3 linked regions of the Homo sapiens genome follow. The protein of the gene in region 3 interacts with the protein of the main gene of each other region in a biochemical or structural test. Each region holds a gene or a part of one and is shown on either strand. Other genes may lie near its edges. The genes, in order: KAT8, NLK and FOXP3.

Evidence for each region.
Region 1: the proteins of FOXP3 (region 3) and KAT8 form a complex in vitro, tested with the Homo sapiens proteins (one study listed by BioGRID).
Region 2: of the proteins of FOXP3 (region 3) and NLK, one has a biochemical effect on the other in vitro, tested with the Homo sapiens proteins (one study listed by BioGRID).

Annotation. Positions count from the first base shown.
Region 1 is NC_000016.10:31,118,714-31,130,251, forward strand, and holds part of KAT8 (histone acetyltransferase KAT8), read left to right. Parts: exon of another isoform or gene 1-143; intron 144-1,472; coding exon 1,473-1,547; intron 1,548-1,625; coding exon 1,626-1,801; intron 1,802-8,321; coding exon 8,322-8,375; intron 8,376-8,475; coding exon 8,476-8,640; intron 8,641-9,336; coding exon 9,337-9,426; intron 9,427-11,303; coding exon 11,304-11,444; intron 11,445-11,538.
Region 2 is NC_000017.11:28,043,519-28,055,056, reverse strand, and holds part of NLK (serine/threonine-protein kinase NLK), read right to left. Parts: exon of another isoform or gene 8,226-11,538; intron 7,141-8,225; exon of another isoform or gene 6,131-7,140; intron 1-6,130. UniProt on the Homo sapiens protein: Serine/threonine-protein kinase that regulates a number of transcription factors with key roles in cell fate determination. Positive effector of the non-canonical Wnt signaling pathway, acting downstream of WNT5A, MAP3K7/TAK1 and HIPK2.
Region 3 is NC_000023.11:49,249,938-49,255,117, forward strand, and holds the end of FOXP3 (forkhead box protein P3), read right to left. Parts: intron 4,131-5,180; coding exon 3,980-4,130; intron 3,266-3,979; coding exon 3,189-3,265; intron 1,829-3,188; coding exon 1,727-1,828; intron 1,547-1,726; coding exon 1,397-1,546; 3' UTR 501-1,396; downstream 1-500. Other genes in the region: CCDC22 (coiled-coil domain-containing protein 22), read left to right, coding at 211-324. UniProt on the Homo sapiens protein: Transcriptional regulator which is crucial for the development and inhibitory function of regulatory T-cells (Treg).

The sequences.
Region 1 (11,538 bases), on a different chromosome or scaffold from region 3:
GATTCATCACTGTGTCCTCTGTACCCGGCAACAACACAGCATAGGGCCAGACACGTAGTGGTTGCCTTACTCATTTATTGAATGCTCTGCTAATTGTCAGGTGCGCTGCTAAAAATTTTGGAGGCATTAATTCACCTTCTAAGGTTGGTACTATTATCCCTTTTGTCTTTTTTTTTTTTTTTTTTTTTGAGACAGGATCTCGCTCTGTCACCCAGGTGGGATTGCCGTGGCACGATGACAGCTCACTGAAGCCTAGACCTTCTAGGCTCAAGTGATCCTCCCACCTCACCCTCTCAGAGTGTTGGGATTACTGGCATGAGCCACTGTGCCCAGCTGTTATCCCTTTTCACAGATGAAGAGACTGAGGCTCAGAAAGATGGAATAACTTGCTCAGTTACACATAGCTAGGAAGTAGGGAGCTGGAATTTTGTGTATTTTTTTTTGTTTGTTTGTTTGAGATGGAATCGCTCTCTGTTGCCAGGCTGGAGTGCAGTGGCGCCATCTTGGCTCACTGCGATCTCTGCCTCCCGGATTCAAGCGATTCTCCTGCCTCAACCTCCTGAGTAGCTGGGACTACAGTTGTGCGCCACCACACCCAGCTAATTTTTGTATTTTTAGTAGAGACGAAGTTTCACCATGTTGGCCAGGATGGTTTTGACCTCTTAACCTCGTGATTCACCCACCTCGGCCTCCCAAAGTGCTGGGATTACAGGCGTGAGCCACGATGCCCAGCCCTGGAATTATACATTAATGTAGGTTATCTTAATCCAGAGCCAGCACTCATGATCCCTGAACAAATGAACAACTGCGGGTATGTGGTAAAATGAGCATTGAATTTAGAGTCAGACTTAAATTCAGTTAAGTATTAGCTCTTACCACTTTTCAAATCTGTGACCCTAGGTAAGCCTCAGTTTTGTTCTGTTTTTTGGGGTTCTTTTTTTTGAGACAGAGTCTTGCTCTTGTCACCCAGGCCACAGTGCAGTGGTACAATCTCGGCTCACTGCAACCTCTGCCTCCCGGGTTCAAGCAATTCTCCTGCCTCAGCCTTGCCTCCCAGGTTCAAGCAATTTTCCTGCCTCAGCCTCCCGAGTAGTTGGGATTACAGGTGTGTGCCACCATGCCTGGCTTTTTTTTTTTTCGTCTTTTTGGTACAGATGGGGTTTTGCCATGTTGACCAGGCTGGTCTCAAACTCCTGGCCTCAAGTGATCTGCCCATCTCGGCCTCCAGAAGTACTGGGATTACAGGTGTGAGCCACACACCCAGCCAGTTATTTTCTCATTCGTAAAATGAGAATAACAGCCTCAACCTGATCCACCTCACAGTTGTGGCAGTGATTGAGTAGAATGGCAGAGGTGGACCAGTGAGGTTAGCTGATGTGTGGCCCTGAACTCTGGAAACTGCTTCTCAGTGTGCAGGATTCCTTTTGTTCCAGCCTTACCTTCCTGATGACCCTAGCCTTTTTCCATCACAGATTCTGCTGAAGTGATCCAGTCTCGAGTGAACGACCAGGAGGGCCGAGAGGAATTCTATGTACACTACGTGGGCTGTGAGTGGCTTGGCACATCTGGGCGTGGGTGCAGGGAGTTGGCTGCCCTGGCAGCACTCTTATGGCCCATACTTACAGTTAACCGGCGGCTGGACGAGTGGGTAGACAAGAACCGGCTGGCGCTGACCAAGACAGTGAAGGATGCTGTACAGAAGAACTCAGAGAAGTACCTGAGCGAGCTCGCAGAGCAGCCTGAGCGCAAGATCACTCGCAACCAAAAGCGCAAGCATGATGAGATCAACCATGTGCAGAAGGTCCGGATCCCTTCCCATCCACGGGCCCAGGAGGCCCAGCTTCTCTGCCAGTTCCCTTGGGTCTCTCGGGCCCCAGTGCCAAAACCATAGCAAATCCCATTTCTTAAGCTCCTGTAGTGTGTCAGGGACTTTACCTACTTCCTCTTACTTACTTTTCATAGGTAAGAAAACAGACAGAGGGTAAGGGCTTCGCTGCAGTCTCACAGCAAGGAAATGGCACAGCTGGGACTAGAACTCAGGCCTCCGGCACTGGTAGCCTCTTTTGTCTCCTAGTAGCTGTGTCTTAGTAGAAAAAATGACTTGAAGTTCAGTGGGAAAGACGAGAATGTTATTCGGCAGTTGCTATAGCCAAGCACCCTGCCAAGTGCTGTATATGTATAAGCTCCTCAAATCCTTCCCAACAATTCAACACACAGGAATAGTTACTTTTTTGGTAGGTGAGGAAGCAGGCTGAGAGAGATTAAGTAACATGCCCAAGGTCACACAGCCAGTAAAACGGTGGGCTGGAATTAGAATAATAATGCCAAACACTTGTTAGCCGGTGAGCAGAAGTATTCAGCTAAATGGTTTTTGTGTGTGTGTGTGTGTGTGTGTGTGTGTGTTTTGTTTTTTGTTTTTTTTTTTGAGACGGAGTCTTGCTCTGTCGCCCAGGTTGGAGTACAGTGGAATGATCTCGGCTCACTGTAAACTCCGCCACCTGGGTTCAAGCAATTTTCCTGTCTCAGCCTCCCAAGTAGCTAGGACTACAGGTACCTGCCACCACGCCCGGATAATTTTTGTATTTTTAGTAGAGACGAGGTTTCGCCATATTGGTCAGGCTGGTCTCGAACTCCTGACCTCAGGTGATCTGCCCACCTCGGCCTCCCAAAGTGCTGGGATTACAGGCGTGAGCTACTGCGCCCGGCCTAAGCTAAGTGTTTTAATACATGACCTCACTGACATTTCACAGTAGGCCTGTGAAGTAAGCATGCAGAAGAGCTACAGATAAGTTTAGGGACCCAGACAGGAATTTGATCAACCAGCTAAATTGTGCTACCTCAGAGCCAGAGGCCTTAGCAATGATTTTGGTTTTTTTCTTAAGAGACGGGAGTCTTGGTGTGTTGCTCAGGCTGGACTTGAACTCCTGGGCTCAAATGTTCTTCCTGCCTTAGCCTTCTAAGTAGCTGGGACTACAGGAGTGCATCCCTGTACCTGCCTTGGTTTTTTCTTGTATTGATACTTAATAATTGTACATATTATTGTTATTTTTTTTTTTTGAGACAGCGTCTTACTCTATCGTCTAGGCTGAGTGCAGTGGCACAATCATGGCTCACTTCAGCCTCAACCTCCTGGGCTCAAGCAATCCTCCTGCCTCAGCCTCCTGAGTAGCTGGGACCATAGGCACGTGCCACCATGCCCAGCTAATTTTTTATTTTTTTGTAGAGACGGGATCTGCTATGTTGCCCACACTAGTCTCAAACTCCTGGTCTCAAGCGATCCTCCTGCCTTAGCCTCCCAAAGTGCTGGGATTACAGGTGTGAGCCACTGCGCCCGACCAAGTCTCAGTTTCTAAATTTATAAAAATCAGGAGTGCACACCAGAGCAAGATTTGTCAAAGTCTCCAGACACCCAGACATTTGTTACTTTCAGCTATTGCAGCTTCATCCTTCTGAGTACATGAGTTAGTGGGCAAGCCCAACATTTAAATTTCTTTAAATGGAAGAAAGAAAGTGGATAAGATAGAAAAATCAGGGTGTTGCACTTTATTAAGTGTAGGTATTGTTTTGAGAAGCTTTTATTTCACACCCAATAAAAGTGTGCAGGATTCCTCTTGTTCCAGCCTTACCTTCCCGATGATCCTAGCACATACTTGTGTGTATATACAGACATGTTACAGTGCCAAGTGTACTTCCTACTGTGGTGTGATTTAAAAAATTGAAATACCCTAAACTGGAAGAACTCCTCAAGGTCTAAACTGCCGAATCGAACTTCCTATTGTAATGGAAATGTTCTATAGCTGTACTATCTAGTACCGTAGCCACTAGCCACATGTAGCTGTTGAGCACTTGAAATGTGTCTAGTGTGACGAAGAATTAAGAATTTTAGCTGGGCGCGGTGGCTTACGCCTGTAATCCCAGCACTTTGGGAGGCCAAGGTGGGTGGATCACCAGGTCAGAAGATCGAGACCATCCCGGCTAACATGGTGAAACCCCATCTCTACTGAAAAATACAAAATAATTAGCCGGGCGTGGTGGCGTGCACCTGTAGTCCCAGCTACTCGGGAGGCTGAGGTAGGAGAATGGCGTGAACCCGGGAGGTGGAGCTTGTAGTGAGCCGAGATCCTGGGCTCACTCCAGCCTGGGTGACAGAGTGAGACTCCGTCTCAAAAAAAAAAAAATTTTTAAATTATGGGTGCAGTGGCTCACGCCTGTAATCCCAACACTTTGGGAGGCGGAGGTGGGTGGATCACTTAAGGTCAGGGGATTGAGACCAGCCTGGCCAACATGGCCAAAACCCCATCTCTACTAAAAATACAAAAATTAGCCGGGCGTGGTGGTGCACACCTGTAATCCCGGCTACTTAGGAGGCTGAGGCAGGAGAATCGCTTGAGCCCAGGAGATGGAGGTTGCAGTCAGCCAAGATCATGCCACTGCACTCCATCCAGCCTGGGTGTCCGATCAAGACTGTCTCAAAAAAAAATTAATTATCATTTTTTAAAAAAATTTTATTTTTATTTTTTCGAGACAGAGTCTCACTCTGTTAACCAGGCTGGAGTGCAGTGGTGCGATCTCAGCTCACTGCAACCTCCGCCTCCCAGATTCAAGTGAGTTTCCTGCCGCAGCCTCCCAAGTAGCTGGGACTACAGGCACGCACCATCATGCCTGGCTAATTTTTGTATTTTTAGTAGAGATAGGGTTTCACTATGTTTGGCCTCAAACTCCTGACCTCAACTGATCCGCCTGCCTCGGCCTCCCAAAGTGCTGGGATTACAGGTGTGAGCCACCGTGCCCAGCCAAAATTTTCATTTTTTGAGACAGAGTCTCACTCTGTCACCTAGGCGGGAGTACAGTGGCGAGCTCTTGGGTTACTGCAACCTCCGCCTTCCTGGCTTAAGCAATTTTTGTGCCTCAGCCTCCCAAGTATCTGAGATTACAGGCGTGTGCCACCACACCCAGCTATTTTTTATTTTTTATTTTTAGTAGAGATGGGGTTTCGCCATGTTGGCCAGACTGGTCTGGAACTCCTGGCCTCAAGTGGTCCTCCCACCTCGGCCTCTCAAAGTGCTGGGATTACAGGCGTGAGCCACCACGTTTAGCTGAGTATAATTTTAAATAGCCCTATGTGACAAGTGGCTACTTTATTGGACAGTGTAGATCTAAGATTAATTCCTCAACTGTTTTGCACTCAACAAAGACATACCTCTGAGTTGGCAACCAGCAGGGTGGATAACGGGCCAGTGGTGATAAAATCAAAGAATAGGTAATGAAACAATCATCCAGTTAACAATCAGCAAGGTTCTTCAGAGCCTAATTAATGTTTAATTCTAAATAAATTGCAACAATTAAGAAAAGTAGTGTTTTTGTAGTTCTTTATTGCATTTGCAGAAGAGTACTGTATTTTGTGAGAATTGGGAAATGTGTTTTAAAGAGATGTGTGAGGAGGAAAATCTTTCTTCCTCATCTTTACAGTGGTTAGGTTCAGAATTGGACAGACCAGGGGCCCATGCCCAACTCTGCTGAGTACCAGTTCTGTGACCTTGGGCAAGTGACCTCACCTCTTTGTGCCTCAGTTTTCTCTCATACAACAGGGACAATGAGCACTCTTATTTCAAAGGCTCATTGTGAGGAACAAAATGAAATAATGTCGGCTGGGTGCAGTGGCTCATGCCTGTAATCCCAGCACTCTGGGAAGCTGAGATGATTGGATCATTTGAGGTCAGGAGTTCGAGATCAGCCTGGCCAATATGGTGAAAGCCCGTCTCTACTAAAAATACAAAAAGAGGCCAGGCGCAGGCAGACCACGAGGTCAGGAGTTGGAGGCCAGCATGGCCAACATGGTGAAACCCTGTCTTTACTAAAGATACAAAAAATTAGCTGGGTGTGATGGTGCACACCTGTAATCCCAGCTACTTGGGAGGCTGGGGCAGGAGAATCGCTTGAACCCAGGAGGCGAGGTTGCAGTGACGTGAGATTTTGCCATTGCACTCCAGCCTGGGCGACAGGGCGAGGCTCCATTTCAAAAAAAAAAAAAAAAAAAAGGCTATGGCTCATGCCTGTAATCCCAGCACTTTGAGAGGCCAAGGTGGGTGGATCATCTGAAGGTCAGAAGTTCAAGACCAGCCTGGCCAACATGGTGAAACCCCATCTCTACCAAAAATACAAAAAATTAGCCGGGCTTGCTGGTGGGCGCCTGTAATCCCAGCTGCTTGGGACACTGAGGTGGGAAGATCGCTTGAACTCAGGAGGTGGAGGTTGTAGTGAGCCAAGATTGCACCATTGCTCCAGCCTGGGCAACAAGAGCAAAATTTCATCTCAAAAAACAAAATAAATTAGCTGGGAATGGTAGCAGGCACATGTAGTCTCAGCCACTTGGGAGGCTGACGTAGGAGAATCACTTAAGCCCAGAAGGCAGAGGTTGTGGTGAGCTGAGATCTCCCCACTGCACTCCAGCCTGGGCGACAGAGTGAGAGTCTATCTCAGAAGAAAAAAAAAAAAACATGTCTGTGCCGTGCTTGCCACTTGGAATAAATGGCAGCTCACTAGTCCCCGAGGGTAAGGGACCTCACCTTGCCCTGCCTGTTTACTACTCTGTAAAATTGAAATAACGCAGCTGGGTGCAGTGGCTCACGCCTGTAATCTCAGCACTTTGGGAGTGCGAGGCTGGTTGATCACCTGAGGTCAGGAGTTTGAGAACAGCCTGGCCAACATGGCGAAACTCCATTGCTACTAAACATACAAAAATTACCTGGATGTGGCGGCATGTGCCTGTAGTCCCAGCTACTTGGGAGGCTGAGGCAGGAGAATTGCTTGAACCTGGGAGGCGGAGGTTGCAGTGAGCCGAGATGGTGCCACTGTACTCCAGCCTGAGCAACAGAGTGAGACTCCGTCTCAAAAAAAAAAAAAAAAAAAAAAGAAATAACACTCTATGTAAGGGTTACTGAAAGGATTAAATGAGGCCATATAAACATATAGGCACAGTGCTTTGTGGAGGGGGTTCTGGGTAAAGCACTGGCTCCTTCCTCCCTTCTCAGCTACAGGGCAGGGCCTTGTCTGCCCTGGTGTAGGTCATGGACCGTCTTGGGTCCCCCTTCCATTGTCAGGCTGTACTGGGTTCCTCCCACAGGGTCTGGCCTAGGAGCAGGATGTGTTGTGAGTGTGGTGTGACTCTTAGTCTCTGCTTTCTAAGGACTTGAAAAATAGAGGAACCCAGGTGGGCATACTTGGACAGTGTTGCCCTGTTGACCACTTCTCGCTGAACTTGGGAAGGAGGGAATGTTTTCTGGATGGGAAGAATCCAGTCAGGCCTCCTGGAGGGGGTGGTAAGAATCTCAAGCCTTGAAGGATGGGAAAGAGCACAATAACAACAGTGACAAAGGATAGATCACAAAGCATCATGGACTCACCTGACTCATGCTCCGTGCCAGGCTGAGGAAGTGTTTTCTGCTGGCAGTGAGAGAAGGAAGGGCATTCTCCAGGTAGAAGGAGCTGTTTGTGCAGAAGCATGAAGGCCGCTAAAAGGGGGCTGCTGATAGCAATGAGGAGGCTGGGGCTGGAGGCAGGGAGTCTGAGGCGGCCTAGTAAATTGTCCAGACCTGAGATGGGGCCATGACTACCTGGAGCAGGACAGAGAGGAGAATTCCAGAGAGGGCCCAATTCCAGAGATGTCAGAAGTAGACTCGACATCCACTGTATTAGGACTTGGCCAGGCCGAGGGAGAGAGAGTAGTCTGAGGCAAGCCTAGTTATGGGTCTTGGACACTGGGACCAAGGGTGATGTTCCCAGTAAAATGAGCAACCCAGGAGGAGGCGCAGGTTTGCAGGGAGGAGTGATGAGGTCCTTTCTGCACATCTTGAGTCCGCTGTCCCTGTGGGAGGGACCTCTGGGGCAGTCGCATGGGCAGGCAGGGTCTGGTCCTCAGGAAAGGGGTCCAGGAACATCGGGGAGGTAGTAACAGTTCTTACGCTGGGCCTGGAAGGCAAATCTGTTATTTCATTTGAGTCTCACAACTTTGGCAGAGCTGGATTGCCCCCCATCGTGCAGCTGAAGCCCCATCCTGATCCTAACCCTGTTCATCTGGCAAAAGGTCCAAACTTGGACATCAGGGATGTCTGGGATATCGGGGGTGGGGCGGGTGGGTGTGAGAGGAGTCTGGACCAGCCAGCTTCAGAACCAAGTCAGATAGGTTAGCTATTGGTGTGGTTATTATTGCCATCCAGGAATGAGGTCTGGTAGACGGCAGGGAAGCCTTGTGGGTCCTGACGGGAGGGACAGCCTGGTCACCACTTCTGTTCACCTCTGCCCACTTTTCTTTCCTGGCCCAGACTTATGCAGAGATGGACCCCACCACAGCAGCCTTGGAGAAGGAGCATGAGGCGGTAAGTGGGGCTGGGAAGCTGCCTGCAGGTCCCCCGTCTCCCCTTGCCGAGGAGCCCCTGCTGAGCCGTGCACTGTGCCTCACTCCCACCCTGCCTGCAGATCACCAAGGTGAAGTATGTGGACAAGATCCACATCGGGAACTACGAAATTGATGCCTGGTATTTCTCACCATTCCCCGAAGACTATGGGAAACAGCCCAAGCTCTGGCTCTGCGAGTACTGCCTCAAGTACATGAAATATGAGAAGAGCTACCGCTTCCACTTGGTGAGGCTGGGCCGGCCGGGCCGAGCTGGGCAGGGGCCCGGTGAGAGGCAGAGGCAGGCATGGAGACTGAGGGCGGCTGCGCCGGCAGCTCCAGGGAGGAGACAGGCCCAAAGGAGCGAGTACAGGGAAGAGCTGCTGGGGGTCAGGAGGCCTGGATTCCAGGCCTGGCTTTGCTGTTGCTGGCAGGGTGACCTTGCCAACTTCAGACCTCAGCTCCTCTTCTCTGGAATGGGGACAGTAACTCACCCCCTTCAGGTCTTTTGCCAAGGCCAGCTCCATCCCAGGAAGCACACATAGCCCCTGGCAGTGGGACCTTAAGTGTGGATGAAATTGGGGGCTGTCAGGAAGGGGCGCTCTCATCACTGACACAGTGGGCTGCTTCCCGAAGTGTGGAATCTGAAGCGAATAGGTGTGGTTTAGGGAAGCCATTGTCATGGACGGGTCCCTCCAGAGCCAGGCCCACAGAGACTCAAAACCCCACCGTGCTGTGTGATGTTTGGATCTCTGTGCCTGGGCCTTGGTCTGTAAAAGCAGGATCACTTTCCTAAGGCTGCTGGGAGGATTACTCGATGTAGGTGAAGTGTTGAGGGGGGAAACAGAGAGGCAGAGACTTGCTCCAAAGCATGCAGTGGTGGGTTGGGTGCCTCCTAGCAGAGAACATATGGGCAGCGAACCTGTTCTCTTGTCCCCGACCAGGGTCAGTGCCAGTGGCGGCAGCCCCCCGGGAAAGAGATCTACCGCAAGAGCAACATCTCCGTGTACGAAGTTGATGGCAAAGACCATAAGGTGAGTGGGTGGCCAGGGGTTGGGAGAGGCCGGGGAGGCCCTGGGCACCTCCCAGATGATCCTCATCACCACCAAAGGGGAGGGGGCAGCCTTAGCTGAGCCTCTATGGGCAGAATGCCTCTGAGGGGCCGGGCACTGCAGCTCACACCTGTAATCCTAGCACTTTTGGAGGCTGAGGTGGGCAGATTGCCTGAGCTCAGGAGTTTGAGAGCAGCCTGGGTAACATGACGAAACTCCTCGACTAAAAATACAAAAAATTAGCTGGCGTGGTGGTGCGCACCTGTAATCCCAGCTACTCGGGAGGCTGAGGCACAAGAATTGCTTGAACCTGGGAGGCAGAGGTTGCAGTGAGCTGAGATTGTGCCACTGTACTCCAGCCTGGTCGTCAGATTGAGAATCTGTCTCAAAAAAAAAAAAGAAGGCCTCTGAGGGCCTCCTAGCCTGGCACTAGGCCTGTAGTTGGTGCATAGGAAACACAGGGCCTTGTGGTGGCCCCAAGACTCTTCTGCTGGTGGGGTTAGGTTCAAACTTGGGTTGTTCTGGAACCCAGAGGAGATTTTCTTGCCTGAGGCTGCTTTTAGAAGTGCTCTCTCCTTCCGTTGGAAAGAAAGGTGTTTGTTTTTGCCTGGGAGGGGACTGCTTTGTGTGAAATTTCCTCCTGAGAGAGCTCTGTGGCTTTCAAGGTTTGAGTTCCTTGTTCCTGGCCCCGAATGACTTCAGCAGGGCAGGTTGGGGCCTTTGGGACCTGCCTAGCTGTTGTAGAGAACTTGGCCTTTGCCTTATCAGTCTGGGAGGGTCTGGCCAAGTGTACTGGTTTCCCGCAGATGGGCCATACAGCACAGGACAGAGAGGGCAGGCTTCAGGGTGGCTCATGTTGCCTTGTCACTTCCTCACTGACCACAGACAAGTTACTTAACATGGTTTGTTCCTGTTTCCTTGTCCATAAGACGGGAGTCATAATATTTAATATTTACCTAGTTGTGTTGTTAGTGGAATAAATGAGACAGCAAATGTCAAGTGTTTAGTGCAGTGCTTAGCACTAGTATGTGCTTAATAAACACGGGCCTTGTTATTATCGGTGACCTCTTGGGGCTTGATTAGCCTTGGACTCGGAGAATACGCAGGCTGAGCCCAGCCCTTGCCCCTGCTCTGCCTTCCTGAGCATGGCTGTGTGGAATAGCAGAAGGGCCCCCGCTGGAGATGTGGGGGTGCTTTCCAACTGCGCTCTGCCAGCTTTGAGGCTCTGGGCAAGCACTTCCACTCTGGGAGCTTCAGCTTCCTCCTGAGTAAGATGGGCCTGGCAGTGCTGGGCTCGCACAGCTGCCGGGTTGGATGAGAGAGTGGCTGTGGTGTCATAAACCAGGGAGCCCCTTAGTGTGTGCCGTGAAGCCAAACTCGGTCCCATTGTCCCCCTCCTGGAGTGCAGCCAAGTGGACAGACAGGGCTCGAGGTTCCTCCATTCAGCAGACGTTTACCAGGCACCCAGCTTCATACTTAGACTCGTGCTAGGCGCTGGGGACACAGCCATGAACAGGACGGTCTAAATTCCTGCCTCGGAGCCTCAGTTTCACGAGCTGAAACAGAGTTAATGTCTGTGAAGACTGAAGCAGATCCTGCATGGAAGGCACCCAGCTCGTATTTGGCACTCAGAAGGGGTGGCCGGGCTTCATCCAGCTCCACTGGCACCTCCGAAGTGCTGTTGCTCTCTCATTTCCAGTTCCCTGTTCGTCAGAGGCTGACCGAAGACTCCTTCCAGTGTGAAATCCTTCTGGCCTGGCGAGGCGCCCACTTCGCGTGGGCTGGTGCCGGCCGCTGGAACCAGCTGGGTGGGGCCTGTGCCTGCCCCCTGAGCCTGTCTCCCCCCTCCTCAACCCTAGATTTACTGTCAGAACCTGTGTCTGCTGGCCAAGCTTTTCCTGGACCATAAGACACTGTACTTTGACGTGGAGCCGTTCGTCTTTTACATCCTGACTGAGGTGGACCGGCAGGGGGCCCACATTGTTGGCTACTTCTCCAAGGTGCTGGGTCTGGAAACTCGGGGTGGGGAGGGTGGGGAGGGCGAAGGTGGGCATGAACAGAGAGTGGGGCAGAGCCTCCCCAGCGGCCCTGAGC
Region 2 (11,538 bases), on a different chromosome or scaffold from region 3:
TACTATTACTATCTCCGCTGTATACATGAAGACCATGAGGTACATAGAGATAAAATAATTTACCCACAGATAATGAGGGGCAGAGCTAGGATTTAAAGAGAGTTATCCTCTTAAATAGCTGGGACTGAAAGTGTGTGCCACTACACCCAGCTAATTTTTATTTTTTATTTTCTGTAGAGATGAGCTCTTGCTACAAAGCCCAGGGCTCAAGCAATCCTCTGGTCTCAGCCTCCCAAATGCTGGAGTAACAGGCATGAGCCAATGCGCCCAGCCTTGACTACTAAATCATACTATCCCTTTAAATGTTAAATGTTCTCCTCAGGTCATTCTTTAACTGCTTTTGTTCTAAAAGTTCCTGTAAATTATTTTTCTTTAAACTGAAACAAGACTGGCCCAACTTTTACTAGCTTAAAATTATGATTCTTTTCCAAATCATTATTTCAAAGCTATAAGGAGTATAATTTAATCCCTGTATATATCACTAAGTGAATATTATAACATCTGAGAAATTAAGTAACATTAATTATTAAGTTTAATATTGAAAGTCTTAATAAAGAAAGGTGCTTTGTTGGTCGACATTATTTGTCCTCATAAATCTTCTGCAAAGAATCCCTATAACCAACTGTTGCACCTTTCAAAAATTTCAATTTTATTAAAATGTTTTAAACAGTGTTATAATTAATTAGCTTGTGTTTTTAAAAGAATGCCTGTCAATATTTACTTTGAACGCTGGCTATGGTATACACCCAGTTAACTTCAGGATAACCCCAATTACTGTAACCTGCAGAACCTGGGAAAATGAACACAGAGGAAGCCAATCAATTAAACATGGTTGAAGATGCTCACATAATTCTCTGAGGCAATTCAAACCCAAACCAAGCCCCTTCTTCTGCACAATAACCACATTACTTGCCAATTTTTATAGCTTCTGGATTACTTTTAATAAAGCTCAAATTTCCTCCGCATCTGTATTACTAAATTTCCAGCTCTATTGAAGTAAATATAGAAATCAAGTTTCCTATTTTAAAAAATTAGAAAAGAGAGGGAAGTGGAGAAGAAAGTGGGGAAAAACCCTCTGCACCAGGCTGCATGTTAATTTAGATGTGCAATGAGACAATCACCTGATAATTGTACCCTTTGGGTACTTTTGTACTGGTAAGATAATACAGTGAAATAAAGTCACCTGGCTTATTTCAATTAACTTACACAATTTGCAAATCTGCAACTCTCTGCCATGGTACATTAAGAAAATTAGCATGTAAGAAAAATCACCTGCTTATGTAAATTGACGGATCATTTTTATCCATGCAGACAGGAAGAAAAGCTGCAATCTGGGTCAAATGACTAATTTTATCTATTTGTTCAAATGTCTCTTTTCACCTTTTTTCTGTAGCTCAGAGCAAGAATTTTAGGTCAAAGAATGGATAAACAAAAAGTTTCTGTGTTGTCCATTCCCCTGTAAGAAGTCTGCTGCCTGACACTACTGAGCTCTATACTACTTAAATTGAAAACAAGACTGAGAACCTTATCCAGATAACAAAACCACAATACGGAGAGGATAAAAAGAGAAATCAATAGGAGATATCTGCTCTAACTGGGAAGGAAAGCAAACATGGCAACGATCAGGTACCAAATTTACCTTCTGCTACTTTAGGCAAACAAAGCTTCAGAAAAGAAAAGGAAAAATGCCTCCAAATAACTCAGGACAGACAGGACTTCTCTATAGAGATCATTATTCCAGTTTGTTCCATAAATATACCCACTCAAGTTCTTCTGAGTCTGACACAAGTCAGACAAATGCAGTATCTTGGTCATTAATGACTGCATTCCTGGCATTTACTGCTGGTATTCATCCCTCCCATTTAAAACTGACTCCATCTCCAGGTCCAGAAGTGGATCTGATTGCTCCAAAAGTAATCTTACCTTCATTGACAGTGACTGGTTCAGAAATGAGTATGTAATCCAACAAAAGCCAAAGAGAGGCCAGGTGCGGTGGCTCAGGCCTGTAATCCCAGCACTTTGGGAGGTCAAGGTGGGCAAACTGCTTGAGCCCAGGAGTTTGAGACTAGCCTGGGCAACAAAGTGAGACCCCATCTCCACAAAAAAATAAAAAAAATAGCCAGGTGTGGTGACAGAGCAAGACTGTCTCAAAAAAAAAAAAAAAAAAACACCAGAGATCAATATGCTGGTGCTGGTCAGTAGCCATGTGTGGCTACAGAACACTTAAAATGTGGTTAGACCAAACTGAGACATATTCTAAGCATGAAGATACATAGTGATTTTGCAGACTCAGTATGAAAAAAAAGTAATATAGATCATTAATAATTTTTATAGTGAATACATGTTGAAATGACAATATTTTGGATATAGAGTTAAAATACATTACTAAAATTAATGTCACCTGTTTCTTTTCAGTTTTTTACTGTGGCTACTAGAAAATTTAAGATTGCATACTTTCACTATGTATTTACTGGATAGCACTGCTGGTTTGCTGAGGGTGTCTGCAAAAATGCTCCCTTCCTCTTGGACAAGAGCTTTAGGAAGTCACTCTCCCTCTTTGGGCACTGTAAGCCCTAAACTACTACAGCCTGAAAGCTGTGTCAAAGCTCATTTTCTGGGAGGCCCACATGCAAACTAGTAACTCTCTTATCCAAATTCAGAATTTAAAAGAGACTCCTGGAAAGAAATTTGTTTTAAAGAAACTTGCAAATTAATGTAAGCACTGGCTCCCAAATCATCTTACCTGATTACTCACACACAAAAGATGACAAAATACTGAACATTAAATTTTATTTAAAAATTTAAAAATCACTCAAAATATTGTAAGAAAACTATTGTAAGACTTATAAGAAACTAAGCAAGTTTTTAAAGTCTAAAACACTAAAAAGGTAAATATTATCAGGAAAATAGTAGTATCAAATGGACATGTAGAAGAAATTGCTCATTTGCAAACAGGCCTGCTCTTCTCCACAGCTGAACTACATGTATAATCCTTACCAATAACTCAGTAATAGAAGAAAACAAGTCTCTTGATGAAAAAAAAATGAACATTTAAAATCTAATCCCAAATTAGAAAACTCTATAAAAGTCACCACTCTGGAACAGGGTGACATTTATCTCATTCCTCCTTTAAACAATTTTAGAAGCTATTCAACACTGTAGTCCTGAAGAGAGAAAGTTGTCTTGTGGTCACCAGCAAACTCCAACAAATATTAATATCATTTTATAATAGAATCTTAGGAAACACAGGATTTTATAAATGAGAAAACCAAGGCTCAGAAAGTTTAAATAACTTTACCAAGGTCACAGGGTTGTTGGCAGCAAGGCTAGGACCAGAACCTTGTCTCCTAACAAGTTTAGTTTAGTAATCTATTACCCCATTGTTTAAAAAAAAAAAAAAAGCCGGGCGCAGTGGCTCACAACTGTAATCCCAGCACTTTGGGAGGCCGAGGCAGGCCGATCACGAGGTCAAGAGATCGAGACCATCCTGGCCAACATGGTGAAACCCCGTCTCTACTAAAAATACAAAAATTAGGCGGGTGTGGTGCCACGTGCCTGTAATCCCAGCTACTCGGGAGGCTGAGGCAGGAGAATCCCTTGAACCTGGGAGGTGGAGGCTGCATGAGCCAAGATCATGCCACTGCACTCCAGCCTGGTGACAGCGGAAGACTCTGTCTCAAAAAAAAAAAAAAATCCTTCCCAAGGAAATGGCACCTTGAACATCAAGTTCTCTGGTTTATTAAACTAAAAACAAACAAACAAACAAACAAACAAACAAATGAGATTTGGAAGAATTGTATTAATAATTTTAAAAAATTGTAAAAAGTAATACTGAATACTTAAGACATTCTTTAGAATCAATCAAACACAATCACTCTCTCAAATGCCATCAATGATCTATTTACTATCAGGCTAAATACAATGGCCTTTTGGCCTTTTCTCCATCTTAATTTTCTGACTTTTTTTTTTTTTTTTTTGAGACAGGTTCTGACTCTGTCGCCCGGGCTGGAGTGCAGTGGTGTGATATCAGCTCACTGCAACCTCAGACTCCTGAGTAGCTGGGACTACAGGTGCGTGCCACCACACCAGGCTAATTTTTTTTTTCTGTACTTTTAGTGGAGATGAGATTTCACTATGTTGTCCAGGCTGGTCTCGAACTCTTGGGCTGAAGTGATATGCCCACCTCAGCTACCCAAAGTGCTGGGTTTACAGGTGTGAACCACCATGGCCGGCCTTCTTTGACTTTTTATCAGCACCAAAGATCACTCCCATTTTCCTAACAATCTTCTGCCATACTTAGATTGTCAATCATTGTGAACACATTTTCCTAACTGCCCTTTAGTTCTGCTTCCAGTAGCTTCTTCCACCTACAACTGAGAACATTCCCTAAGACTCAGACAGATCTCAGTTCTCTCTACTCTTCTATTTTACATATCCAAAAAAAAAAATTAAATCTGACGAAGTCTCTCTTACTTAAAAACTTTCAGTAGTTGCCATTCGCAGTTTTAACCTTTTCTCATCATTGCCCGCCTACGGAGCCTTTTTAGGCTATTTTCCTAATCATCCCCTCGTAAAATCTTAATACCACAGATATGCTATTTAACTGTTTATGTGCTATATGTCCACATATGCTTTATTAATAAAAAGCTGTTTTTAGTGCCTCAAGCATGACATTCCAACCTCTTCATGATTGAGCTCTAGCTTACACTTCCTACCACCCACTGCACTGCACATTCAGCATCTCCAGCCCTGTAGTCTCCTGCATATAGGCCCTTCCACCTAGACTGCCCTTCCCCATTGGTTGACTCTCATTCTTAAAACTCATTGAAGAATTACCTATTTTAGGAAGCATCCTGACCTTCCATAGAAATCCCTCCTCTACACGCCCTTAATGTCCAGGGACTATCTCTATTGCTGCATTTATGGCAATGAATTATAATAATCCATTTACAAATCTATTTCACCCAGTAGGTCATAATCACCTTTAATCCTTATCTCCAGCACAGTGCCTGGCAAATAGTAACATACAATAATTGAATATTGTAAGAACAAGTGAAAATAATATATATATTTTTTGAGACACAGTTTCACTCTTGTTGTCCAGGCTGGAGTGAAACGGCACGATCTTGGCTCACTGCAACCTCTGCCTCCTGCGTTCAAGTGATTATCCTGCCTCAGCCTCCCAAGTAGCTGGGATTATAGGCATGTGCCACCACACCTAGCTAATTTTGCATTTTTAGTAGAGACGGGATTTCACCATGTTGGTCAGGAGGGTCTTGAACTCCTGACCTCAGGTGAACCGCTCCTCGGCCTCCCAAAGTGCTGGGATTACAGGCGTGAGACACCATGCCTGGCCTGAAAATAATATATTCTTAAGTTTTTATTTAATGGTTTCAAATTTAGTTTCACCTCTCCACCAAGGCTGAGGACACCCTGAGAGTAGGCATGTTTCATTGTTCATATTGTTTACTTGACTGTCAACTCCTCCAAAGCAATATGGTGACTTAAACATCCCTATACCTCAGTACTAAGCACAATACAGACAACAGCAGCAGCAGCTTAATAGAGGTTCGCAAAATTATTTATAAGACTAAATATCCCCATTTGGTGCTTGCAAAAGTGCTGGTCCACAGCGAAGTGACAATAAAAATATATAGACTAGTGAGTTCCAAAGGTGTTAAAAACTTTCACTGCCTCATAGTAGATATGACTCAATTAGCCAAATTATTTCAAAACTGGGTTTAGGTAAAGAGCACCAATCATTATGAGTGGCAGACATCCCCATATATACTCCCTCTACTCACACCATTACAACTAAGAGTTAAAGTTCAATCTCAGTAGAGTTCACTTAGAAGTCATCTTTCCATAATGCCAGAGTACCAGTTTTTTCTGTTTCTGCACTAGGTACCTTACAACTACTGACTATGTCTATCATGACTTGTTATGTGCTCACTGACAGTGTTACAACTGTTGCCTCAGACACTCTGTTACTTCCAAGCAATATCAGGATCACACTGACAAGCTATTTTAGTTATTGTTGACCTGTATTAGATGGCCCAATCAACAAATAATTCACTGGAGTAGCACAGAGGCACAGGGACTCAGAATTAAAACCCAAAGAGACGCATAATTAAAGAGCTTCTAACAGCTTCTGTCCATTTATTGGTTGGATGACAAATGAAAAAGTTTCTTTGGCCTTGACAATCTCCATCAAAGAAACCAAATAAGCATGTTAAGGAAACATACAGTATATGAACAGTTAATTCTTGTATTGCTTGGACATCAATAAATCTAATAAAAACGACCAAGAATAGTCACTCAGTTTTACAATATAGAAGGCAGAGAAAACTCTGACACTCCAAGTTGTGAAGACAATGAAACATTCCAGTACTCCATTAGAGGACTTTTTGTATCTACAGCTGCCTGTGCTTTGAAGGTAAAAACCCAGAATTTAAATTCAAACATATTCAGTTAATGCACTTATGCATTTTACAAATTTTTGTTCTGGTATAGCATATGAAAGGGAGCTATATCTGCCCCCATTTCTCTTTTATGACACATGCCCAGTGGTACTGATGGCTAAAAAGATGGTATTTAATGTTGAGGGATATTGTTCTAACTTGCTTGAAAGGGCAATGTTTCTGAAATGCCTTAAAAAAAAAAACTGTCTTTTTTTCTAAATTAATATTGGACAGTATAACATGAAATTTCTCCCCAAGAATAAAACAAGTTTATTTTTTGTGCTGTGGTTTTTTGAACATAATTTGGATAATCTTTTCAGGAGTCTAAGTACAAAATGACTTGCAACGTTATAGGCTATGGAGTTTCAACCACCAAGAAGTGGGTGCAGAATCATCAGATTGTTACTTTTATTCTCTACTCTTTATCTACTTTATGATCATGAACCTGTAATTTCCAAAAGTAAGTTCGTTTGTAGTTAAAATTAACAATACAGATTTCCACATTTCTAGTTTCATACGGATGCTTTGTTATGTCTAGAAGAGCAACCGTTTCCTTTTTATGGTGCAGGCTCTGCTTCTTCAAAGCTCTTTTCACAAAGCAGAGCCCCCAAAGAATCCAGCTGTGGCTGTTAATCTCGGCTGATAGTGGAGAAACTTCTCAGTACTACAGATTCTCAACCTGTAAAACACAGTTAATAACAAAATACCCTTTAGTATACTACTCTTTCTGATGCAACTTACTCCAGGATTTTCCCCAAACATATCCCAAAAGCATTCTGCATTTTTCCAAATTAGTTTGTTATGTGGAGTAAGAGGACCAGACAAAACATAAGAAAAAAAGATGCCTCTCATGTTCACAAGATGAGCAAGCTAGACAATCTCTACCATGCACAAGGGCTTATACTGAGTAATTTTTTTGTTAAATCACTATATTTCTCCCACCTCACTGGGATCTTTAGCAATTCACACTTTTTCATCCAAACATAAGCAAAGTGAATCTCTACTTCGACAATAAGGATGTCTTTCATTTGTTACATTCTGAAAAGAAAAAATTAATTTCCCAGTATATAAATCCATAATACTTTCTAAAACAGTGCAGATGATCTGACTAAAACACCTACAAAGTCCATACAAATGTGTATTATTTTTATTTGTTTTTAATTAGTTGACAGGACAGCACAGAGTATTTTCCCCTTGGCTTTAAATTCAACCATTTTCAAATCTCCCTGACATACAGTACAACTGAGGGGACACGCTACGTTATTTAGAGTCATGCCTCCAAAAATAGTCTGCATGCTGATTTCACCTGATAAATCTGACAATCTATGAAGACACTTCCATGCACATTAACACAACAGCTTGATTTTTCTACCAACAATAACTACAATAAAAACAACTAACATTTATTGATGCTTACTGTGTGCTAGACAGTGTAATCATTGGTTTACAAGAATTACCTCACTTAATCTTCACATCAATCCTGAGATAAGTACTATTATTATCCCCATTTTATAGATGAGGAACAGAGAAGTCAAATAATTTATCGAGATCACAGAGCTAGTAACTATCACTACAGTTTTGAAAGACAGATAAAAGTAACCTGCTGAAGTTATTAGAATAATAAAATTCAAAGACCTCCAACATTACTTGGAGTACACAAAGGCAACAGAGCAAGTGAATCCCAGGATTTTTGATCTTTTAATTAATCAGGCAAGTCACAAACCAAAATGCTAATTTTATAAAAAAGTCTTTTCCCAGACTCACTTTTACCAAGGTGGCAATATGTGCCATTAATTCCATCTCTGATATGTTAAGTTGCCAATGTCAAAAACGGTCTAGGCACAGCGATCCTCAAACCACTCTCATGCGGTCAACTTCCTCCATCTCTCAAAATTATGAGCCCCTGAAACTCTTTGTCCCAAAGTTGTTACATCTTTAACCACAGCATTTTCCTCTGGCAAATGTGAACTGCAGACAAAAAGGTAGATTTATATTACTCACCAAATGACTGAAGTTACTATTTGTGGGTTGCTTTGTGTTTTGTTTTTGCATTATGAAAATGTCCATGTGGGTGTTTGGAGGCTGTAATGTCTCAAAAAGAAGGTCAAATTGTATATGATATCTTGATAACCCATAAACAACATTCTATCAGTGGCAACAAATGTTATCTCAGGTTATCCCACAATCACATTACCAGGTAAACTGGAACTCTTACTTTGAGATAAAATACAGCAGACAGTTGTTAATGAAACCTTAATTGAACTGTCACAGCACCATCCTTACCAGCAAGCTAATGAGTAATTCACTACTTTTACACAACTGTCCAATACTGATAAGTTATTCCACTAGTTAAATTCAACAGAAAGATAAATCAAGTCAGCTAGACTAAATTGTTCAGTGATAAATCTGGTAAAATGCTGCATCACTTCTACAAATATCTCTCCTTGTCTACATGGAGAAACAACAATCTCTCTCAAAATTGCATGCCACTTTTTTAGCCATCAGTTAGTACCCCTGGGTGTATGTCCCCAAGGAAATGTGGGCAAATACAGTTTCTTGTCATATGCTATTCCAGAAGAATACTTGCAAAGTGCATTAAATGAATATATGTTTGAATTAAGTGAATCTTATAATACCCCGGTAGTTAGTTACATGGCGGTTTCAATCAAAGGATGCATCACTGGGAGAACATTTTTATGTTCCATTATAATCATTTTAGAAAAAAGTTGTTTCCAATTCATAAGGTGCTTCCTAAATTAAAAAGATACATTCTGTTTCAGTTAAAAAGTAAAAAACCTCACTAATATCTTTACCTTGGGTTTCAGAATATTAGTGCAATTCCCGGTAGTTTGGTTTTCAAATCTCTAAACAGTCTTACTTAGGTCATACAACAGTTAAATTTCAAATATAATAAGGAATTCAGACAGCAAGTCATTGACATGTAAATATAAAAATAGAAAAGCATTTGCATACTAAAACATACACCTGGAACTCTTTCCTTTTTCATACCAAATTGTATTTCACCTGTAACAGCTGATGAAAACACTCAATGCAGTTAACTAGAAAAACTTGGTTAAAAAAACAAAGACCCGAATCACGTGATAACACAGGAGGACGGCCATCCACAAGCCAAGCAGAGGGGCCTCAAAAGAAACCAAACCTGTACCTTGATATTGGATTTCTAGCCTCCAGAACTGTGAGAAATAATTTTCTGTTGTTTAAGCCAAAACAAAGAAGGACCTGACTAGATCAATTAACCAAGCAGCAAAGATGCCAAAGCACTGTGCTAGGCGCTGAGGAGAAAAGGATTACTACAGTAGACAATCCTTACCCTCAAGGGGCTTACGAATGTAGTCAGTGACACAAGACAAACCTGAAGTAAGATGGTGCACAGAGGTGTACTTTAAGTACATGAGACAAACTCCATAGGTGGTAGAGCAGTCAATCAATTAAAAACCTCTAGAATGGCTTCAAACCAAATATATGTGGGCTTTCAGATATCAAAGATTCATAGTACCCACTAGCAGAACGTTTGCTGTGTGAGATGTTTCAGCACTCCAGTTCTTTATTGCCCCCTTCCTTAAAAAAATAAATAAATAAAATAAAAACTGCTACAAGTCACATCACTTTTTGATAGAAATGTAAGTGAAAAATGCCTTTTGAATATATTCAAGAATGCTGCAACCCATTTCCCTTTCAGTATCCCTAGTTTTTAGCATTGTATGTAAGGCACTAAAAAAGAAAGTAAGCATCCAGATCTAAGAAGATCCAAACAAGTGCTAAAAGTTATTAGTAAATCAATGACAAAATTTAAACCAAGGAACAACCGTTTTCCTGTCTGTTCCATCCCCCAACCAAAGCTTGGAAATCCTCAAGAGTTAGGCAAGGATAAGTTCACAGTTAAATCTCTGAGATAGTCTGTGGAAGGGAAGAGAGGAAGGCAGGAACAGGCAGGTCCCTGAGCAGAATGACCAAGGCACCATTACCAGCTATACTCTTTTCCACCTTGAATCCCACACACCTTGAAGAAAGGACCACGCTGCAGCAGAAACTTCCTTGGGGACTAGCTGAGAAAACACTGGACTCTACTAGTTTTTTTAAAAAATGGATGAGATCACTTAGCAGCCTAGATTATCAAATCTGAAATATAAATAAGATGGCCAGTTAAAATGCATAAACAATGCACCCATCAATTTTAGCCTCAAAAACAATGACGAAAGGAGATATTTACCGGGCTAGTTCCAAAGAGTTCATTTTCCTGTGGTAATGGGCGCTTTTCTCGGGAGTAACAATTTTTGAATGCACTGAAAATATCAATTCATCTATCCAAAGTGGAATCATTAGTCCTTGGGAGAAAACCCAGTTCATTCTAGTTTTGATAGGAACAAACATATTTTATTATAAACTACTAATCTTTCTAAGGTTAGACCAAATAGACCAAAATGTTATATTTAAGAAGCCCTTAGGCTTTTACAAATATCCTAGCACTAGCAAAGGTAGGGTCATTTGTTAAAAAAGTATTATTTCCTACTACAGCAACTGACCAACAGATAACAGCAACTTAAGAGGCACTAAATGACACTAAAACATTACACTGAATGTGGGCCACTGCATAGCTAGTCTACTAACCTCATTTGTGGTACTCATGTGTGATGCTATATTTAATGCATTCTTATCAAAAGGCTACAGCTACATACTTCTCAACTGTAGCTTTATGGTTTAAAATAAACCACTCAAGCAATGATCTTAACTGGTTCAACTATGAATCCTATCTTTCTTCTGGAGATCAAGATCACAAAATAAGTGAAAAGACAGAAAGGACAGGAAAGTAGTTATGCAAAGTATATCCTAATGACAAGAGTATTATAAAGGAATTCAGTCTGGATCAGGTGCTAACACTTAATGCCACAGGGCCACTGAATCAAACACACGAGATGACCAAGGTCTTCGTAGGAATTAGTATTGCATACATTCATCTACTGATCCTGTGTTCAGTGGCTTGCTTAGGTTCTAATAGAAAAGTTTGGTAGACAGCACACTTATGTGTGTTGCTCATGAGAAGGCGCTCCACCAAAAC
Region 3 (5,180 bases):
GAGGCTTCAGCTTAAAGATGTAGGGGGAATCCTGCCACATGGCGAAGGATGCTTTGGGTAGAGGGAACACCACACGAGGCCTGGCCATGGGACAGAGCAGGCTGTTGGAGTTGGTGGGAGGGGCCCAGAGTGGCTGTGATGGGGGCTGGTGAGCAGGAGCTGGGAAAGGGGCTGTGTGTGCTGAGGGGGCATGTGTTCACATTGCCTCAGATCGAGACAGAGCTGGGCAAGAAGACCCTCAGCAACCTGGAGAAGATCCGGGAGGACTACCGAGCCCTCCGCCAGGAGAACGCTGGCCTCCTAGGCCGGGTCCGGGAGGCCTGAGGAGCCGCCGGCAGAGGTCTCTCCCCAGCCTCAGGCAGGGATTTGGGGTGCTGGAGGCAGTGGCCAAGCACATGCCCTAGCTACTTCCTCCGCTGTCCAGTTCCTCCTGCTGCGGCCTTGGACCCAGACCCCTGCCCACTGACCGCAACCCTTATATGGGGTGATAGTCCAGCATGTGGGGAGCTCGGCTGCAGTTTATTGGGGACGGTACTGTGGGTTGGGGGCCTTGGATCCCAAATAAATGAGTAGTTCCTCTGCAGTCTAAGCTGAGGCATGGATCAGGGCTCAGGGAATGGGAGTGAGGTGAGTGGCAGGGGAGACACGGGGTATTTTTGGCAAGGCAGTGTGTGTGGCTGTGTGTGTCTGCACGGGACTCAAGAGACCCACTGGGGGGCTGTGCGTGTGCATATGCGTGAGATACACAGGTGAATTCTAACAGGCCGTGTGTGTGAGCGAGCACGTGTTGGGACCTCAGATCCTGAGGGTACTGACGCTGCTTCTGTGTAGGCCTCTGGGCACACCCCTGTGTTGACAGTGCCCCTGTGGGCCCTGAGGCTGGCTGTGGGTGCGTGCCTTGGGGTGTGTGGGTTGTCAGGGCTGTGCTTGTGTGTGATTGTGTGATGATGCAGCTTTGAGGTTGTTTGAGTGTACTGAGGCAGGCTCTCTGTGTTTTGGGGTTTGTGTTGAGTGAGGGACAGGATTGTGACATTTTGTGTGTCTGTGTGACTTTTCCAGCCCTGAAGTAATCTGTGCGAGCAGCTGAGGCAGGCTCTGTGTGGCTGGTTGTGAAGGCTCTGTTTGGCTGCAGGGCTCGACTGGGGGGTGTGTCTGGGGCGGAGGTGGGGGCTGGGGCCAGGACCGGGGCCCCTCTGAGCAGCCTTGGGGCAAAGGATATGATGGGGGAGGGGGTGGCTGCCAGCGGGGGAACAGGGGCCCTGGCAGGCAAGACAGTGGAAACCTCACTTCTTGGTCCCTGTGGGCACATCCAGGGCCTATCATCCCTGCCCCCACCACCTCTGCCTCCCACCAGTTTGGCCCCTGTTCGTCCATCCTCCTTTCCTTGATCTTGAGGTCAGGGGCCAGGTGTAGGGTTGGAACACCTGCTGGGCCTCTGGCTCCGTTTCTTGCGGAACTCCAGCTCATCCACGGTCCACACAGCCCCCTTCTCGCTCTCCACCCGCACAAAGCACTTGTGCAGACTCAGGTTGTGGCGGATGGCGTTCTGTGGAAGGCCGGGGACAGGGAGCAGGTGGGCGTCAACCTCTGAGGCCAGCAGCCACCACCAACAACCCACATCCCGTTCCTCCCCAATGTGCCTATGAGCCCAGACCCAGGCCTGCCCACTTTGAGCTGCGATGGCACTTGAGGCCATCCCAGTCACCGCCACCTCAGAGGAGCTCACCTTCCAGGTGGCAGGATGGTTTCTGAAGAAGGCAAACATGCGTGTGAACCAGTGGTAGATCTCATTGAGTGTCCGCTGCTTCTCTGGAGCCTCCAGGATGGCCTGGAAGTTGGGGGGTGGGGTAAGGGGCACATTCCCCAAACTTGGGGTTTAGAGGGGCTATGACCTACCCCGAGCCATCTGACATGGGGGCGGAATTGTAGGGGCAGGTAATCAGGGACAGGACTAGATGTGGGGTGAAGCATGGGGTCAAAGATGGGGTTAGAAAAGGGGTGAAGTGTCGGGTTGGGCAGGGTTAGATGGGTGTGGGTATGGTTGTTCTGGGATTAGGTAAGGGATCAGGACTGAGGTTGGGAGTGGGGTCTTGTTCAGGGCTAGGGCTGAAGTGAGGTGAAAGGTCTGGGATGGAGTTGGAGTTGGGGTTCTCTGTGGAGGTGACATTTCAGGGTTGGGGAAGGTGAAGGGTCAGAAGTGGGGTCAAGGATTTGGAAGGGGTAAAGGGCCAGGCCAACTTAAGGGTCAGGGAAGGGGTGGGTTAAGAGTCAGGCTGGGGTGGACTCAGGTGGGGGGTCTAGGGGTGAGGGATGGGATGACTTGGCTTTAGGTCAGAAGCCAGAGATGGTTTGAATTATCGAGTATCTTACGTGTCAGGGACATGGTTAGGTGGTTAGGCTCAGGGCAAGGATGAGGTTAGTTGTGGGGTTCGGTGTGGAGTGAGGCTGAGGGTCAGGGAATTTGATCAGTTTGGATTCAGGAATGGGATTACAGAGTCAGCGATGATGATTGCAGTGAGGCTATCAGTCAGGATGGGGCTAGGTCAGGGTTTCAGTTCAGAGACAGTCGGGGAATATCTGGTATCATGTAGGGGTGAGGTTCAGGTTTGGGGTTAGGTGTGGCGCTAGGATGAAGGTTCTGAGAAGGCATTGGGGAGGCTGAGATGAAGGAGTTGGGATGGGGTGATGAAGTTAAGGATCAAATGGGTGTTACAAGGAAAGGTTGGGAATGGTGCCCAGTTGGGGGTGTATTGACATACTGGGGTACGTTGGGGCCAGGGAAGGAGATGGGGTTGGGTTGGCATAAAGGCTGGGGAAGGAGTTAGAGTAAGAGCTGGGGTACGTTTAGGGCAAGGTGCAGAGATGGGGTTAGCTTTAGGCTATTTTATGGGTCCAGGAGAGGGTTAGGTATGGGGCTGAGGTGGACATCTGGAAAGGGGTAGGTTTAGGGTCAGAATTTGGCATGCTCTGGCCTGGATGGTGGTTTAGGTTTGGATTTGCGGACAGGTTTGGGGTGAAGCCAGCATGAGGGGTCACATTTGAGGCACGGCTTGGGGATCCTTGGGGCTGGGGCTTGGGAATGGAGGAACCCACTCTGAGGGCACTCAGAGGGAGACAGGAGTTTGGGAGGCAGGTCCCCCACCCCATCTTTGTCTTCCTCCTCCTTGGGGCCGAGCTGCCCTGCTTACCCAGCGGATGAGCGTGGCGTAGGTGAAAGGGGGTCGCATGTTGTGGAACTTGAAGTAGTCCATGTTGTGGAGGAACTCTGTCAGAGGGTGGGGATGAATCAAGCCCCATGCAGGACCTCCTAGCTAGCTCCCTGTCCCCTCCCCCTACAAGGTGAGTCTACAGGCCTGAGATCTCACCGTCAACACCCGTGTCCACGGGCACAGGTACTGTTTGCTGAGCACCTGACATAAGTTGTATCATTTATTCTTTGCACCACTTCTGCCAAAATAGTTCTCCCCGAGGTTGAAAAGAAGCGGAGTAACTTGCACACCAAAGGATGCAAGAGGTTAAATGGCAGAGCCAGGATGACAGTCAAGGTCTCTGATCCCTGCTAAGCCCACAGGCCAGGCCTGGTGGAGAGCAGTGGATAGGTGAGCTCGGGCGAATCCACCCCGATTTTCCTTGGTCAGGGGAGGAAAGGAGGTGCTCCTGGAATTACTTAGCAGGGTCCCTCCCTTCTGATGGCCGAATATAGTAGCTGGAGTCCAGAGTGGGTGAGGCATGGCCCCAATCCCCAAGGGAGTCAGGGCTAGGGGCCCGACACTCGAGACCATATGGGGGGCTTTCAGGCCACGGACATCCCGAAAGGAAGCTTTTGTGAGCGGATGCATTTTCCCAAAGGCTGAGTGGCGGCAGCTGCAGTGGTGGTGGTGGTGGGAAGGGGCAGCATGGAGCTCCTTTGCACCCTCCACCCAGAGCCTGTCAGGATTAGGAGCTTGGGGGCACCGTGTAGTGCAAGGACCATTCTTACCTGGGAATGTGCTGTTTCCATGGCTACCCCACAGGTGCCTCCGGACAGCAAACAGGCTGTCAGGGGCCTCCCGGGGGCCAGACCAGGCTGGGACGACAGGGCCTTGGCTGCCAGCAGCTACGATGCAGCAGGAGCCCTTGTCGGATGATGCCTGGGTGAGGGGGAGAGGCTGGTGACCCAGAGGCTTAAACTTCCCACTTTTTACTTTCTATTTTATGTTTTTTATTTTTTTTGATACTGAGTCTTGCTCTGTCGCCCAGGCTGGAGTGCAGTGGTGCAATCTCGGCTCACTGCAACCCCCACCTCCCAGATTCAAGCAAGTCTTCTGCCTCAGCCTCCCGAGTAGCTGGGACTACAGGTGCCCGTCACTACGCCCAGCTAATTTTTGTATTTTTGGTAGAGATGGGGTTTCACCATGTTAGCCAGGCTGGTCTCGAACTCCTGACCTCATGTGATCCACCCGCTTCAGCCTCCCAAAGTGCTGGGATTACAGGCATGAGCCACTGCGCCTGGCTCCACTTTATTTTTAAATCAGTGTTTTTCAAAGCAAGGACGCCCTCTTCTAAATTCCAGTCTGAGGTGGAATCCCACAAAACAGCATGAGCCGTATTTATTAGAGCACAGGTGCGGATGTCGTATGTGGCCACTGATGCTGGGACCATGAACTGGGGTTGAATAGGGCTCTTTACCACCCAACTGTGACCTTGGGAAAGTCACCTAAACCCCCCTGGCCTCAATATTCCTCATCTGTACATTCGCATCATGAGAAATAAATTACCACCAGCAAAGCGCTCAGAAACAGTGCCTGGCCTCCAGGGCTGGCTTCATGGGCGTGTGACCTATGTGGTTATGTGGCACCCTGTGCTTTGTTTAATGCTCTGTGGTCGCCATCTTGAAATCTGAACAAGGGGCCCTGCAGGTTACATAGCTGGTCCTGCTGGCACACAGCCTGCATCTGGCAAGTCTGGCTATTTGCATTTGCTTTAACAACTCAGGATCACAGTGTTTGGGGATCTTAGAGTCAGAGGGTTTTTTTTTTTTTTTTTTCTTGAGACGGAGTCTTGATCTGTCGCCTAGGCTGGAGTGCAGTGGTATGATCTCAGCTCACTGCAAACTCCGCCTCCCAGGTTCAAGCAATTCTCTGCCTCAGCCTCCCAAGTAGTTGGGACTACAGACACCTGCCACCACGCCTGGCTAATTT